Linked DNA regions of Homo sapiens. The protein of the gene in region 3 purifies or fractionates together with the protein of the main gene of each other region. This does not show direct contact. Each region holds a gene or a part of one and is shown on either strand. Other genes may lie near its edges.

Region 1 (3,651 bases), on a different chromosome or scaffold from region 3:
ATTTAACTAATTCAAGTCATAAAAACTTGCATTGCATTATACAGACCTCTCCCCACTTACTCCAACTTGACTTTTGTCTACACACGGCTGGTGGCAACAATTCACAGCCACTGCCAAAGACCAGCCTCTCTGGTTTCACGTGGGCAGGTCCATCCCTGATGCTGCACTCACCCTGGGGGCACTGAACTATGAAGCAGTGAAACCACCAAGGCTGCCTCTGAGAGCTGCCAAGTGCTACATCGGGTAAGCAAGCTGCCTTTCACTTGTCAATCTTTAATTAGTGGACAAGGGGCTCCCATGCAATTTGGGACACGGGCCTGCTCACAATGAGGTCTACTGATGGCACCCCTGGCTTCTGCAGTACATAACAAGTGCAGCCTTACACAGTGGCTCTACTCTTGGGGGGGATGAAGCATTTATCAGTGCTACACACTGTAGGTGTTCAGTGCAAGAAAAAACAAATTCTGTGATTCTTCATTAAGTGTACTGAACTTAATGTTAAAATGTATGTACTGGACTGTTAATAACTCATATCACATATAAAGGATACCCTCCTTCAATATCTAAAGAAGTCCTTAAATCAGTAAGAAAAACAACAGCCATTAGGAAAACAGGCAAAGGCTATAAACATACAGCTCACAGGAAAGGAAATTCCAATAGCTTAGGTACTGGAAATAATGCTAAACCCTTCTCATAAGGGAAACGCAAATTAAAACAAGGAGATTCTATTTTTCTGCTGTGAAACTGACAGAGATCCAAACACCTGAGTTGCACTGCTGAGGGTTTGGGGAAGGCCACTTCCCACGGGAGCTACTGGAGATAGCAAGGGCAGTGGGCTGTAGAACAGCTGAGCTACAGCTATCAAAATTATCCCCCTAGACACAGCAATTACACTTCTGTAAGTTTTTCTAGATAGACCCATACATGTGCAAAATGACATATATACAAATGTTTACTGAGGAACAATTTATAATAATAAAAAGGGGAACAACCCAAATACCTATCAACTGAAGACTGGTTAAATCCACGGCGGTATCTCTGCAGAGGATACTATCAGCCATCAACAGGAATGAGGCAGCCATACTTGTGAAATGGAAAGATCTTCAAAATACGTTGCTGGGGAGCCAGGGAGGAACACTAGGGTACTAAACAGTGTATACAGCTGGCTCCATTGTATGTGTGTAAATATATGCGTCTGCCTGAACATACCTGAAAGGACATTCAAGAATCTTAACACTAGTTCGGGGTAGGAAGGAGATCAACTTTTCACTATATACCCTTTTGTTCCTTTTAAGTCCTAAACCATGAAAATGTTTTACCTAGCTAGCTAGCAAAATGAAAAAAAAAATTACTTTATTAAAACATTTACAATGCAATTAAGAAAGCACAGGTTGTCTTTGAAGGATGGGGTCCTAAGAGAGTTCATTTCTAGCTTTATGACATTTTAACTAAAACATTTATTTTATGATAAGTGAATATTAAAGTATAAAAAAGGAATTTTTTATTATTATTATTTTAGAAATGGGGTCTTCCACTGCTACCCAGGCTGGAGTGCAGTGGTGCAATCATAGCCACTGCAGCCTCCAACTCCTGGGCTCAAGGGATCCTCCTGCCTCAGCCTCCTGAGTAGCTGGGACAATTAAAAAAACATTTTTTTGGCTGGGCACGGTGGCTCACGCTTGTAATCTTAGCACTTTGGGAGGCCGAGGCGGGTGGATCACGAGGTCAGGAGATTGAGACCATCCTCGCTAACATGGTGAAACCCCGTCTCTACCAAAAATATAAAAAAAATTAGCATGGCATGGTGGCGGGCGCCTGTAGTCCCAGCTACTCCGGAGGCTGAGGCAGGAGAATGGCGTGAACCCGGGAGGTGGAGCTTGCAATGAGCTAAGATCGCACCACTGCACTCCACCCTGGGCGACAGAGTGAGACTCCGTCAAAAAAAAGAAAAATTTTGTAGAGAGGGTCCCCTTATGTTGTCCATGTTGGTCTTAAACTTTTGAACTCAAGTGATCATCCTGTCTTGGCCTCCCAAAGTGCTGGGATGGCAGGTGTGAACGCCTGAGCCCAGCTCTTCTTTAATGAAAAATTTTAAAATGTCATCAGTAAGTGGGAAATTACTAAATGATGACATATACAATGGTAGGCACTGTGACTGTCACGGAGGATGTCTGAGATACATTAATGAATTTTTCAAAAGGCTGCAAAATGGTGTGTATAGCAGGATCCCATTTTCCCCAGACAAAATCAGCTCTGTGTGCTCACCTAGGTGCACATGGACACAGAAAAATGTCAGCAGGGCCGGGCGCGGTGGCTCACACCTGTAATCCCAGTACTTTTGGGAGGCCGAGACAGGAGGATCACCTGAGGTCAGGAGTTCGAGACCAGCCTGGCCAATATGGGGAAACCCCATCTCTACTAAAAATACAAAAAATTAGCTGGGTGTGGTGGCAGGTGCCTGTAATCCCAGCTACTCCAGAGGCTGAGGCAGGAGAATTGCTTGAACCCAGGAGGTGGAGGTTGCAGTGAGCCGAGATTGCGCCATTGCACTCCAGCCTGGGCAACAAGAGCGAAACTCCGTCTCAAAAAAAAAAAGAAAAAAAAAAAAAAGGAAAAAGGAAAAATGTCAGCAGGACACAGCACAACTGTCTACACACTCGGTTATCCCCCTAGGGAATAAAACCTCAGGGGCCACCAGTAGAAGGGATGACAGCTTTCCCTTTCTGCACTGTATACACAATCTATGTGTACTGTTTGAAAAAACCATGTACAAGCACTTTGTTTTAACTTTGACATGAAAACATTAAACACTTTTTTTTGTATAAGACCAGCTATGGGAGCTCACACCTGCAATCCTAGCACAGGAGGGTGAAGTGGGAGGACTGCTTGAGCCCAGGAGTTTGAGGCTACAGTGAGCTATGATCACACCACTGCACTCCAGCCTGGGTGACAAGGCGAGACCCCATCTCAAACAAACAAACAAACAAAACCACACATTTAAATATTGAACACTGAAGTTTCCAGAGAGCAGAACTGGCCAGCTGAAACTGACCACAGAGGGCCCTTGCACTTGTCTGCAGCATCAGCCTCCCTAGATCTCCGTCTCAGTCCCACTGAGAAATCAGCTCAGCCTTTCTCTCCTATTGTCTTTGCCCCATTTGGCAGTCCAAAGCCCAGTGTCACTGGCATGGCAGGCCCTATGGCTCTGCAGAGGGGCCGGGCTAGGCAGATGCCTGCTGTGTGCTTGCAGCACACCCCGTGGGCCTGGCCACTTTAGTACTCTCAGGTGGCCGTTTCCTTGTGTTTTTCACAAGCCGTAGACAGCATCTAGTATGTGACTGTTCTCTTACAAACAGGGGATTCTCTTCTTCCTGCCCAGCTGTGTTGCACAGTGAATCCTAGCTGACTGCCTTCTCTTAGTAGGCGAGAAAATGGTCACCGTCCTTCCTAAGCCCCCACCAACTTCTCTCCACCCCTTCCCCACCCAACCTAGCAGGCAGCACCTGGCAAAACTACAACATAGGTATTGGGAGGAACAAGCTCGGGGCTGGTCCACACTCGGTGCTAGAACTGTCACATTTTACAAAGGAAAGACCCAGGGCAGCTGTCAAAATAGCCTGGGACCTATTTCATTAAAATAGCAGAAACCAA
Region 2 (3,651 bases), on a different chromosome or scaffold from region 3:
GGTAACTATGGTACAACAAATCTTGACAGCAGTGCAAAAAGCAAAGCCTTGTTCTTTTTAAATAGCCTTAGGCTTCTGCCATTTTATGAGGCCTACAGAACTCTGAACTCAGGACAGACTTCCTGGATTACCTAACAGCCCTGGGGCATGCTTATAAATTAAGTTTTATAAATTTTTAAACTATAAATAGCAGCAGCAACAGTAGTAGTTTAACTACAAGAGAAAATCAGTTCCCCCAAACTGAAGACTCTCTCAGACCCTGGGGGTTGCCACACTCTGTGTAAATTAGCTTTTGGACAGGCAAGGGGTCTCCAAGGAAAATGGTCTACCCTTGGATCAATGACATATGCTATTTGGAATACTGGCTAAAGCAATTCAAAAAATCTACACTGACACAAGGAGAAGACAAGCTCTCTAATGTAACCAACACCTGAATCAGACAGGATTCATCTTGGAAAAGCAAAAATGTGAGCAATTAACTGTCATTATCTACTGCCCCTCAGAAATTCTAAACCGGGAATAAAAAGTATGGCCAACTGACTTTGGGAGGCCGAGGCGGGCGGATCACGAGGTCAGGAGATCGAGACCATCCTGGCTAACACAGTGAAACCCCATCTGTACTAAAAATACAAAAAATTAGCCGGGCGTGGTGGCGGGCGCCTGTAGTCCCAGCTACTCGGAGGCTGAGGCAAGAGAATGGCGTGAACCTGGGAGACGGAGCTTGCAGTGAGCCGAGTTCGCGCCACTGCACTCCAGCCTGGGCTACAGAGCGAGACTCTGTCTCAAAAAAAAAAAAAAGAAAGAAAAAGAAAAAAAAAGGATGGCCAACTGAAATGGCCTCTCCTGTAGTTAGGCCCTCAGGATGGCTAATGAATAGCTGAATAATCCCCATTATATTAAGGTTTGAAATATAAAAGAAGTTTGAATGAAGATCTGACATATATATATGTGTGTATGCCTAGTGTTTTGAAAACTGGACTAAGATGCTTATTAAAATATAGAATTGTTAAAAGAGATACAGTTGACTCCTAACATTACAATAGCAAAAATAAATTCACAAAAGCCAGCCTAATCAAAGAATTCCAAAGCAGAAAAAAAAATCCTTAACCAAAACAGAAAATCACTTGGGTATTATTATTATTTATTCTAGAAGATTATAACCAGAAAAATCATGAGAAAATTTTCATTAAATCATGCAACAAATATTTATTTATTGACTTCCTCCAATGTGTCACAAAGCTTACGTTAACCATCAGGCAACTGATCTCTCAGCTATCTCTCCATTTATTTGGGTCTTCTTGACAACTATTTGCTCAAAATGATGTTATTAATCACTGTCAAAGCTCAAATTCAAGATTCCTATCTTCTTGAAAGAGCAGAGCTTTGTTTACATAATGCCTTCAAGCAAAAAAGAACAATAATAACAACAATTTGCTTGACTCCCAAAAACACTGTGAGACTCACAGCAATTTAATTTAGATGTCAGAGCTACACTGCTTTCCCAGTCTACTTTGTCTACACTGTCTACCACTTTAAGTATTCCCAAAAGGATGTGGCTATATTTACTTGTTTTAGCTATTTTTAATATCAAGATAATGAAGCCAGGCTACTAGTTCAGTCTTCACAAGGGACTTGTTATTTGTCATTGCATATACTTAAAGCAAACAAATGAGCAGCACAAATATGTCTTCACTAAAGAATCTTACAATGTACAAGCACAAAAACGGTTTAGGTCAGGGATATTATCTTCATAACTGACAAAAGGACATCAAGTATTCACCTCCCTACCTGACCTGGAGACTTATTATAAGAGTCCCACAACCAAGTTGGGAGACTTCCCAATGAACTGAAAGGCTGAACTCTGATCTAGGTCCTCCTCTTAATTATTTGAAGTTTCAGGCTATCAAAACTCAAGAAAGTTATAGCATACACATAAATTTTTCATTCCCAGTCTCGCTCACCCACAAATGCTAATTCCCCACATTGACAACCTACTGGACTTTGTTTCCACTTTCGGCAAAGAGGGTATGACTCAAACTACTGGTCTCTCCCAGTGGGATAAATCCAATGGGAATCTTACTGAAGGTAGCCTGGGGGGGGAAAGAAGAGGAAAGTTTTATTGTTATGATCAGAAAATCAGGCTTAATGGAGAAGCACAGGTGTGTCCACTATGACAAATAACTGACCCTGTATCTGCCTCCCCATCTCCTTTCCACATCCTTAGACCAGTAATCAAATAAAGCTAGGTGGGTAATTTCTAAAACAAGGCAGTCAATGAAAACAAAATGACTCAGAATTTGGAAGAAATATTTTAGTACTCATTAATGACAACTGTTTGAAAGAAATTTGGTTAAGATAATGAGGGTTTTGAAGATAATATATCAATGCACTAGTGCAACAGAGACTGTATAACATTGTCACACTATTTGATAAAGTTGCAGATAAAATTCAACTAAAAATGTCTACCATTTATACAGTGACCAATGACAGGTGAAGGTGCTTTATAAACTATCTTAAGTACAAATAAGGCAAAGAGAATAAACAAGTTCAAATAATAGATGGTACTGGCATAGCAGTTAATTAAATGCCACACATACAATAGATACTGTAAGGTTCAAAACAATTCTGAGCACAATGTACTATTACCAAAGGGACTGAGAAGGATCTTCTAGCTATTGTAGAAAAGTGCATAAAATAATGTTACAAAAACACCCATGTGCCCACAACCTATATTTAACAAATGTTAACATTTACCTTTTTGCTTCATATGTTTCAAGAAATAAAACGATAGAGATACAATGAAAGTCCCTTCTAAAACTATTCTCCTCTCTCCCTTCCCAGAGGAGACCATTATCCTGAGGTTGGTGTGATTCCTTTTCATCCACATTATTATTCTTTTGCTACATATTTAAGCATCCATTAACCATACATAGTATTGTTTTCTGAATTTTAAAACACTGTAGAAATGCATAACATACCTGGGCAACCTGCTTTTTTTTTTATTCAAAACTTTTGAGATTTAGCCATGTAGATATTTATACATTTAGTTCATTCATTTTAACTGTTAGATGATTCCCACTATATGAATATGCCACAATTTCTTTTATGAAAAAGTTCTTTGAAAAAAAGATTCCATAACAAAATTTTAAATAACCATTGTCAAAGTTATTGGATACCATCAATTACCAAACCAGAAAAGTCCCCATGTGTTAATATACGTGTTCTATGACATGGGTAGCAGTATTTTCTTTTCTAAAATTCAAGAAAGCACAATTTGTACCCGTTTTAAAATATACAATGGAAAAAAAAAGTAAAAGAAAGAAAAGCAATAAAAAAGAACAGAAAAATAAAAGTTAAAATGCAATTACTCTTTAATGCTCACCTCATCTGTTCGTCGAAGAACACCAGTAACAACCTACAAATGTAATAATAAAACATTGTTATAAATAATATGTATTTCCTTTACAATAAAAGAATTGGATTCAATTTTCATAGACCATAAACTTACTCCTGTTTTCTTCTTAGAAGCTCTGTTAAAAGATGCACTGGATCTTAAAACATATAGTATTCTCCAATAGAATCAGAGCTAAATTAGATTTTATTTTTGACCTATGATCAATAATACAATAAAGGCTAAGATAAAATAATTAT
Region 3 (3,651 bases):
GTTGCAAGGAGATGGGCAGCATCTAGGGCACTGGCCTGGAGTATCGCAGGTGCTTTGCCTAAGGTGGTGCAGTCCAGGAGAGGCAGCTCCAGAGAGAGGCCCCCGGCTGGGGCTGAAAGGAGGGCAGACCTCGGTTTGAATTTCACCCTGCCGCTCTATAGCTGTGTGACTTGGGCAAATTACTTAACATCTCTGTATGAGGAAATGATGAGTGCTAAGCACTTAGCTTAGTGCCGGGACAATATAAATTCTAGCTATCGTTACTATTGTTTTCATCACCCGTTGCTTTAAAATCCAGCCTCTGGTATAGGCAACTATTGACGGGCTACCCTGTGTCGAAAACATGCCCAGGCAGGTAGCAGGAAGTCACAGATGGGGACCTCTTGGGGCATCAAGGGATGGTGCCCTGAGGCTGAGCTGTTCTGGTTGGGTGGAGCATGAGAGGTCTGGGAAGACAGTGGGACTCCAGCCTGGAATAAGAGGCTCAGAGTTGATTCTCGTCTGAGCACGTCCAGGGGAACCACTGAGGGTTTGGGAACAGGAGAGTGAGGGTGAGAACCTGGTTCTGGGCACAGCAGGCTGGCATGTAGGATGGATGTTCAGGAAAGATGAGCATAGTCAGGTGGCTGGTGCCCTTGTCCAGGGGAGAGGCTCCGTCAGGTTCAGGGGTCCTGGCTTGGAGGGAAGTCCGCCATGCTCTAATCACGCTCCCCTTTGGAAGTGCTCAGCCGATGAGCTCACAGGCACATGTCAGTTTGAAGTCATGGAATCTGACTCCATGAAGCGCACCTCAAAGAGCACCATTTTGCAGCTAAGGGAACTGCAGGCTGGACATGCTGAGTGGCTGCCCCGAGCCCTTGCAGCTAGGACATAGAGAATGCTAGTAACCACAACCCTACCATGTTCAGAGCACATGCCAGGCTCCATGCTGGGGCTTCGCACGTGTCATCTTCACAGTGTCCCTGTGAGTAGGTGTGGTTTCTCTTTCCATCTTACAAATGAGTAAACAGAGCCTCAGTGTAGCTAAGTAACCACTATTTTAGGTTTCTTAGCCAATGGGTGTGTCTGACTCCTAAGCCCATGGAGGGCATTCTGAGGTGGTTCAGACAGACCCCGGCTTACCCTTGAACTTCTGCCTGCTGGCTGCATAGGGAGGGGCTGGGGGGAGTTTGAGCATCTCAGGCCATAGAGCCCCTGCCTCACTGTCTCCATCTCTGGGTGGAAAGATGGTGTTTTCCCTGAGAAACTAAGGCTCAGAGAGGTTGAATGGCTCTCCCAAGGTCACACAGCTGGTCAGCTGCAGAGTTGAGAACACAGGAGTCCTGGTGCTCAGGCCAGCATCTCTTTTTTTCTTTGAGTTGTTTCTAGGTTTCCTAGCTCTTGCCTCAGACCTTAAAGAGAGAGGGTCTGATGGGGATGGGCACTGGAGACGGAGCATCCCAGCATTTCACATCTGAGCTGGCTTTCCTCTGCCCCAGGCTGCAGCTCCCACTGGGAGGTGGAGGACCTTGGCACCCACAAGCCGCCTGTGCTGAGGCCACGAGGTCAGCCCAACCAGTGCGTGGGCCACAGGGAGGCCAGCATCCACGCTTCCTGCTGCCATGCCCCAGGTCTGGAATGCAAAGTCAAGGAGCATGGAATCCCGGCCCCTCAGGAGCAGGTGAAGAGGCCCGTGAGGCCGGGTGGGTGGGGTGCTGCGTGTCTCTCCTGCACAGCTTTTCTGTGTCAGTTTGTGCCACCACCATACCGCCATGCATCAGGGTGGCGGTTTGCCAGGTAGATGCTGTGGGCAGCTTCCGCCATTGTGTGGACAGCATGTATATGTGTCTCTGTGTGGCTGGGTCTGTTTTTGCTTTTGTCCAGATCAGTAAGGTTTGCTACCTGGGTACCCCACTCCACTTGGAGTAGAATGTGCATAAATATGGCATAAAGAAATGCAATATGCATGCATTTATTGATTGATCTATTTTTTTCTGAGATGGGGTCTTGCTGTGTTGCCCAGGCTGGTCTCAAATTCCTGGGCTCAAGCAATCCTCTGGTCTCAGCCTCCCCAAGTGTTGGGATTATAGGCATGAGCCGCTGCACCTGGCCTCTCTGATCTATTTAACAAACCTGCTGGGAGGGTCTCAGGGTCAGGAGCAGCACTGGGCTCTGAGGACACAGAGCTCACTCAGCCGTGACCCAGAGGGGGTGCCTGAGCTGCATGCTGAAGGTTGTTAGCATGACCAGCAAGGCAAGAAAAGGCCCTGCCGAGATTAGCAAGGCATGTGCCAAGCCCTGGAATGTGACAGCCGGGCCTTCTAGAAACCTGAGTGTATAACTCTCCTTAAAAGCCAGTAGGAGCTCCTCAAAAGGCAGCCCTAAGGAGTCCACTCTTAAATGAACTCAGAGTCAGTTTTAAAATGCAAGTCTGTGTTGATTCTGGTCTGGATGGTGCATTCCTCGAGAGCAAAAGACAGTCTTGGTCTTGGATCCACTTGCCCTGGGTACACTGAGGGCTGCTAGGTTCCAGGTGCTCTTCCTGGCACTGGGGAGGGATACAGGCCCAAGAGACATGCTGTTCTCCCTCCTGGAGCATCTATTTTAGTGGAGGAAGACAGAAAACAAACCATTAATATAGAGTACTGAAAAGATGCGATGGAGAAAACTATAGCAAGGAAGGGAATGGGGTGGGAGAGAGGTCAGGAGAGGTCTCGCTGACAAGGTGGACGAAACAGGCCATGAGGCAGAGAACATGTTCCAGGCAAAGCAAAGGCCCCCAGGTGGGGATGTGCAGGGAGTACCAGGAAACCAGAGAGGTGGGAATAGTTATGAGATGGGGGGTGCCTCAGAGGGGACAGGGCCAAGTCAGGTGAGACCTGAGGGTCACAGTCAGCAGTGAGCTGGGGCCATGCAGGGGTCTGGCCTCAGAGGAGTGTGGTCTGGCCTGGATCTGAACCTCTCACTGTGGCCTAGCTGCTGAGCTGAGAAGAGATGACAAGGACCTTGGGCAGAAGCAGGGAGACTGGAGGGAGGCGGTGGAGGGTCCAGGCGTTGGGGCGGGGCTCAGGCTGGAGTCTGAAGGGAGCCTGCAGGCCTGGTGGGTGGATGTGGGTGGGAGAGGGGGAGGATGGCACCAAGGCTCGGGCCCCTGGACAGATGGAGTTGCCATTAAGTGGGATGGGGCAGGCTATGGGGCCATCAGTTTCAGAGGGATGAGTTTGGCACTGGCATGGTAGGCATCTGTCTATCTCCACGGCCCTCAAACCAGGCATGAAGCAGGAGCTCACGTGTTTGGTCAGCCATGGTGCAGAACCGCCTGGGTGGGAGGTGCGGGGTGGGAGATACACGGTTGTGTCCCAAATGGGCTCTGAGCCAGCGAGGGCCGTCTGCACTTTGGCCTCACAGAAGGATGTCGGAGGGAGAAATGAAGTGTGGGTGGGGGTCCCGGGCCACGCTAGACATGTGCTTTCTTTTCCTCGGGCTCTGGCAGGTGACCGTGGCCTGCGAGGAGGGCTGGACCCTGACTGGCTGCAGTGCCCTCCCTGGGACCTCCCACGTCCTGGGGGCCTACGCCGTAGACAACACGTGTGTAGTCAGGAGCCGGGACGTCAGCACTACAGGCAGCACCAGCGAAGGGGCCGTGACAGCCGTTGCCATCTGCTGCCGGAG

Evidence for each region.
Region 1: the proteins of PCSK9 (region 3) and TUBB6 purify together in Homo sapiens (affinity purification with mass spectrometry, with the first as the bait; one study listed by BioGRID). This does not show direct contact.
Region 2: the proteins of PCSK9 (region 3) and AGK purify together in Homo sapiens (affinity purification with mass spectrometry, with the first as the bait; one study listed by BioGRID). This does not show direct contact.

The regions. Positions count from the first base shown.
Region 1 is NC_000018.10:12,318,094-12,321,744, reverse strand, and holds part of TUBB6 (tubulin beta-6 chain), read right to left. Parts: intron 1,210-3,651; exon of another isoform or gene 1,083-1,209; coding exon of another isoform or gene 1,001-1,082; intron 1-1,000. UniProt on the Homo sapiens protein: Tubulin is the major constituent of microtubules, a cylinder consisting of laterally associated linear protofilaments composed of alpha- and beta-tubulin heterodimers.
Region 2 is NC_000007.14:141,613,910-141,617,560, reverse strand, and holds part of AGK (acylglycerol kinase, mitochondrial isoform 1 precursor), read right to left. Parts: intron 3,416-3,651; coding exon 3,383-3,415; intron 2,091-3,382; coding exon 1,996-2,090; intron 1-1,995. UniProt on the Homo sapiens protein: Lipid kinase that can phosphorylate both monoacylglycerol and diacylglycerol to form lysophosphatidic acid (LPA) and phosphatidic acid (PA), respectively. Does not phosphorylate sphingosine. Phosphorylates ceramide.
Region 3 is NC_000001.11:55,059,897-55,063,547, forward strand, and holds part of PCSK9 (proprotein convertase subtilisin/kexin type 9 isoform 1 preproprotein), read left to right. Parts: intron 1-1,368; exon of another isoform or gene 1,369-1,478; coding exon 1,479-1,660; intron 1,661-3,472; coding exon 3,473-3,651.